Regions from separate parts of the Homo sapiens genome. Here region 1 is linked to region 2. A link means that fine-mapping ties the variant in region 2 to the plasma level of a protein whose gene starts in the linked region. Region 2 holds a variant in brackets. A gene starts in the other region. All regions are shown on their reverse strands. Region 1 holds the start of PPY (pancreatic polypeptide). Region 2 overlaps MECOM (MDS1 and EVI1 complex locus).

The links. PIP is the chance, under the fine-mapping model, that this variant and not a neighbour inherited with it causes the effect. The UK Biobank Pharma Proteomics Project read protein levels with antibody pairs (Olink). The fine-mapping took linkage between variants from a reference panel, not from the people measured, so its PIPs are less certain.
Region 1: it holds the start of PPY, and the variant in region 2 is fine-mapped to the plasma level of the PPY protein (UK Biobank, PIP above 0.99).

What each region holds. Positions count from the first base shown.
Region 1 is chr17:43,941,111-43,944,021 of GRCh38, reverse strand. PPY (pancreatic polypeptide) reads left to right here and starts at 1,546. Exons shown (of 4, transcript NM_002722.5): 1 at 1,546-1,601; 2 at 2,368-2,558; 3 at 2,808-2,879. The coding sequence starts at 2,368.
Region 2 is chr3:169,475,117-169,478,027 of GRCh38, reverse strand. All of the region lies in intron 1 of MECOM (MDS1 and EVI1 complex locus), which reads left to right. MECOM-AS1 (MECOM antisense RNA 1) reads right to left here. Exons shown (of 5, transcript NR_134932.1): 5 at 976-1,142. Among named protein-coding and RNA genes, the nearest start is that of MECOM-AS1, 29 kb to the right of the region's middle. The variant T/A (reference allele first, on the strand shown) is at 1,572.

The sequences.
Region 1 (2,911 bases), not on the chromosome of region 2:
CTTTGTGGAATGTAAGTTGTCTGGTGAAGCATTATTGCTCTTCTTGTTAACCAAAATCAAAATTGAGAGGGTCAAGGCAGAACACTGATGTTTGCTGAGCCTTCCTTTATTCTCCCTATCTTCAGATGGGTGTGATGAGCCTATTTTACTGAGAGGAAAAGTGAAGCTCAGAGAGGCTAAAGAAATTACTTTCCCAGGCTCACAGAGCCAGCCAATGCAGAGCCAGGATTTGGACCCAGGTCTGTCTGACTCTAAGCCCACCCTGCCAGATCCCTGGAGTTTCACCTCCAGTCCCCTCTTCCCCAACAGTCCCCCCCATCTCCCAACTTCTTGGTATACTGATCTGGGACAGCAGAACGTCAGCAGTCATAAGTCCTTAGCTCCGTACTTGGTGTCACCGTGTCATTCAGACACAGCCAGTTACCACTCCTTGGCCTAAGCAGGGGAGGGAGACTGGGGGTTGGGAAGAGACGCTGGGCAGGGGAGACTCAGGGGCTTCTGGTGGGGATGGATTAGTGGGGTTGAGAATCTAAGCCAGAATTCGGAACCTCGGTAGCTATGAGATCTTGAGCAAGCGTCTTTACCTCTGTGAGCCTCAGGTTTCTCAGCCAAAAAGTGGGAAATTATAACAATACTTTGACGGCCCCACTTAGGAAAAAAAACAGTCCAGGTTTGGAGTTAAATTTTGGGGTCTGACTGGCTGTGGGGTTTGGGGCCAGTGATTTGACATCTCTGAGCAGATTTCAGATCCTGAATCTGTAAAATGGGTTGTTGTGGGGATTTAGTGAGGTGACTGAGCTGGCAGCACTTTGGAAAATGTGAGGCTTTACAAATGAAGCTGGTTTTTAGCACTTCCCTGGAATGGGGGCTCTGAGATGGGGAGGGAAATGGATACTGGAAACCGGCACCCCCCTCAACATTTCCCCTGAACCCAGGCACATGAGTTCTCATTCTGCATCCTATGCACCCACCAAATGGGTTTCTCCAAGCCTGGCACCCCACTCCTTTCCACCTTGCCTGAGGACCTGAGGCCCCTTCCCTCTTCCCACCTTGTTCTAGTTGCAAGCTGCAGAGGATGGCCTGAGTTTCCATTCTTCAGCCTGGAGGCTCTGGCTGTAGCCTCAGTCTTCCAGCTGCAGCCTCAATCTTCTGCCCCAAGAGAATCCGTTGGATGATTTGGGTTGATCTTTGGGAGGCAGGAGAGCTAGTTCCAAGGCCTGTGACCAAAACCTTTCAGTCACTCTCGAGTCCCAGAACCCCATCTTTCTTGAACCAAGCCTGCTCTGGTGCCCAAAGGGAAGGGGTGTCAGTGATGGGGGCCCACAGGAGACTTTTACTGTGGTCCAGTTTTATCTGTTATGCTGCTGGTCTGGCACCCACAGAACTGCCCTGTCCCCCTCCCGTCTCTGGCCTCAGTACTGGCGTTGCCAGTATGAGGAGACAGTGAGAGGAGGGGTGAGGGCTTCGGAGTGAGAGAGGCTGACAGGAGGCGGGGACTCTGGGGGGCTGAGGACTATAAAGCGGCCCAGCCGAGGGCAGGGGCCCATCCGGCCTGAGGCAGGTGCTCGCTTGGTCTAGTGCCCATTTACTCTGGACTCCGGGTAAGTGGGCTCAGCCTGCCTGGGGCTCTGGGGGCCTCCCCCAGGCTGGGGCCTGGGATGGAGAGGAGGTGGTGCTTTGCAGGGCCAGGGGCCTTGGGAGGCCTAAGGTCCTGCTTGGGTCTTGCTTTCTGCATCTGGACAGACCTGTCACGCTAGAAGAGCCGTCTGCTGACTGCACGTGTGTGTGCACACTCGTGTGCATGGCTGTGAACTGGAATGTGTGACTGTGACCTTGTGAGTGACTGGGGTCCCTGTGTGAGTGCCTTTGCTGGTCTGTGCAGGACGACATGGACAGTAGCGTCTTCTCCAGGACCGATATCTGTGTCTCTATCGCAGGGTGGAGGGCCAGACCCACAAGGCCATGGATTTCTGTCCTTGGCTTCCCGAGTTCATTCTGTGTCCCCCACCCTGTGGGTGACCTGGCATGCCCTTATTCCCACTAGCTGCTGCCTCCTGGGAGCCATGAGGCCCTGGATGTCATGAGTCCCGTGTCTCCAGGACTCACATCCCCATTTTCTCTGCTATACTTTTCTAACTTGCGAGGCCCTGGCTTGCTGGGCTGCTCACAGGACAGGCTGTCCGTGCCTTCAGAGCAGTGTCTAGGAGGTGGAGTGGCCAGCTTGGAGTGGCCCTTTGCTCTGCCCCCTTGTCCCCAGGCTTGGAGAAATGGATGATGGGCTAAGGGGCTGGATAGTTGGGCCCTGCTTCCTGGGCACGGGAAAATCTGCAGCCCGGGCTCTCCACCTCCCCTCTGCTTGCTCCTCAGATGGCTGCCGCACGCCTCTGCCTCTCCCTGCTGCTCCTGTCCACCTGCGTGGCTCTGTTACTACAGCCACTGCTGGGTGCCCAGGGAGCCCCACTGGAGCCAGTGTACCCAGGGGACAATGCCACACCAGAGCAGATGGCCCAGTATGCAGCTGATCTCCGTAGATACATCAACATGCTGACCAGGCCTAGGTGTGTGCCACAGTTGGGGAGAGAGATCCCAGCCCCTGGGACCCTGGGCCCACTCCACATTCCTGGCCACACCCTATCCCCAGCCCCAGCCCCAGCCCCTTCCAGGCCTGCTCTTGGGAAAACAGGGCATCTGTGCTCAACAGGCCTAGACCAATGTGCCCTGGGCAAGATGGTGCCTACAGGCAGATATGAAACAGGTGGGCTGGCACCTGGGCACAGTGCTTGCCCCTGCTGCCTCTTCCCTCCCAGGTATGGGAAAAGACACAAAGAGGACACGCTGGCCTTCTCGGAGTGGGGGTCCCCGCATGCTGCTGTCCCCAGGTGAGTTTGACTCCCTGCCCTGTCTGTCCAGC
Region 2 (2,911 bases):
TCCCTGACAAATAATACACCTTAATTATGTTGGCAAGAGGGGATATGTCATTCCTGGGCCACTTTAATTGTCTATCCGACAGGCATCCTGCTGTGGCATGTAGCTTCTGTGGTATTTTGACTGCAGTGGTAGGACTATCCTGTGCTTGCGCTTTGTCTAGAGATAGTCTCAACTTTTACAGGTTCTGAAGATAATATGTCTTATTGAAGCCGTGTATCACTTTTGTTTTGCAGTTGCTAAAACAAGCTCTCACATTAATTTGGTGGAAACAGTACAGATTGGCTATCTACAAGGTTTGCCTTGGAAAGCAAAAAAAAAGTCTGCATAAGGATTTAGAATGAAGTAAATACTGAAATAACTACAAAGGTTAAGAAGAAAGGTGTTTGGGCATATCAGGAAGCTCCACAAAGGAAAAACAGCTGACTGCAGCTCCAGGAGCAGGACGCAGAGCCTCTAGTTTAAGTCAGCTAATCCTTTGCAAGAAACAGAGAAGTGCTCTTGGCCAAAGATTAATCTTACAATTCCATTCTCACATAAAAATCCTGCAGCCTATAACAATCTTGACTTCGGGACTCAGAAAAAAATTCTCTTTTATACCTTGCAAGGATTTGGATCATTGATGGTCTTCATTTTGGCACTTGTTTGTGTTTACTCCAAGATTTTTGTGCAATTCTTTGCCCATGGGAGAATGACGGGGCGCAAAGATAAAAGCTGATGAGGGTCTCAGCAGCACTTCGAAGTTGTGGGAGCCAGTTACCATTTGGAGTTCTCCTTTGACAGGGGTAGATGCCTTAATTTGAAATGCCATTTAACTAGGAATCTACCTAGACCTTTGCAGTGTGAAGACTTCCTATTGCAAATGAAATTGTGTGTGTGTGTATATATATATATATATATATATATATATATATATATATATATACACACACACACACACACACACACATCTTACTTATCCAGACCTCTAGGCACATATTATGTCGCATGTAGGAGTTTATTAACATGAGTATTTCTAAAAAGAAAGCTATTTTATCCATAGCAGCAGGTAAAATTTTAGTTTGTTGGCACAGTCCGTTGTCTCATCTCTCTTTTCTTCTGCCTAACCTGTCTTTGCCGGTTTTCTCATCAGTGGAACATGTTGCCTGTGAGGTTAGGGGAGAAAAAGAAAAAAAAAAAGAACAGCATCAACAAAAAATAGCATCTTCTTCCACTCAACCTGCAAGGCTTCACAAGGGTAATCTCAAAGGTCACCTGGCTCCTGTTTTGGCCAAGAATATGTGGATTAGGGTCACAGGAGGGCGAGATTTTAATTTCACAAAAATATGTAAAGGGAAGGGGGAGAAGGGGGAGAAAAAAAAGATTACTTGCAGAGAGCATGAGTACCAAGGGAGGCATGCTTAGGTGACTAACGACACCTCTATCAGAAGAACAAACTCGATCTGCATCAAGCATTGAGACAGATGAGGCCAATTTCACACAGTAAATTTCTTGGCCATGATTGATGTGCCCCTGCCGCTGAATGTGAGCAAGCTCTCTCCGCACCTGTCAAGCACCGGGCAGACAGGGATCTA[T/A]CAAAGCGTTATTGATGACTTTACACTGTACTCTGCAAATAAAATGTAATGGGCTAACTGGAACATAGATCTGAGTGATGTTACTTATATATTAAATATGTCACATCTGTAGAACAAATGGTGGTTAGATAAGAGTTATCATCTTCAGGGCTCAATAAATATTTTATCAAGCATAATGGAAATTGTCAAATCAATCTAATTGTGTAATACATTATGAAGACATCAAAATTAAACAAAGCACATATGCTATCATTTCATTTTATTAGTGGGCCACTGTTGTGCCCAGGAGGTCTTGTGGTGGTTGAAGGCTGGCAGAGTTAATACTATATATATGTTTCCCTTTCCTCTCCCTCTGCTGCTTATGGAACTGGCTAGATATTTCATCAAAGTATTAATTTCTCAAATGCAGACAACTTCAAGGCATAATTAGATTAGGGAGAACAAAGCTGCGAAAAGTGGCATCAAGCCACAAATTCACTTTAGCCATATTTAGAGCAAATATCTCTGTGCTTCCATTTCATTTTATTTATCTTTATCTGATTTTATACTGTTGCAATAAAAAAAAACCCAACATGAGCAAGAATTATCTTTGAGCCAGAGACATCCATGCTAGCTCCTAACTAGCAGCAACTGATGTTTCAAAATACCTTTGTCGTTTTTGTTATTGGTGGTTAAAAACCACTTGAGGTTTCCCTCCTCCTCCCCCTTTTTTTTTAATTGGCAAGCTAGGTACTTTACAAAGACTATGGAAAGGATTACAAAATCTGGCAAGACTGGCTTTGGCTTGGTGAATTTTAAATATGCATTTAAGGAATGATTGCGTCTTTCTTTTCTACCCGATTTAAGACAGCTATTAGATTCGGAAAAAAAAAAAACTTCGACTTTTTAGTCACTATTTTTAATGTGCTAAGGAAACATTACCATTTCATCCATGTGTCCATTAAAAGAAAGGGCAGCCCGTATTCCTGGCCTTAGAAATTCTCAGTTTGGCTTGTCACTGTGATCAAATTCAGTCCCAGGGTGCATAAGAGGAAGGTCATGAAACATCCTGTGCCCAGTTTTTCCAGAAGCAAAATGGGAATAACTTAAAAAAACACTTCAACCGTCTTGATAAAGTTGGGCCAGGGGACAAAGTTTGCTGCTTGTCAGGGTTAGAACTAAAATGGTTATATTAGGATAATCATGAAAGATACTTATTTCAATATTAAATGACTTTCAGAATGAAGTGCAACCATTGGCAACAAATAAGAGCACAAATTGTCTTTTTTCCCCTATAGAATTATATGCTATGTTATCATTAAAAGGAATTTCAAGTGATTTGTATGTGCATTTGTTACCAA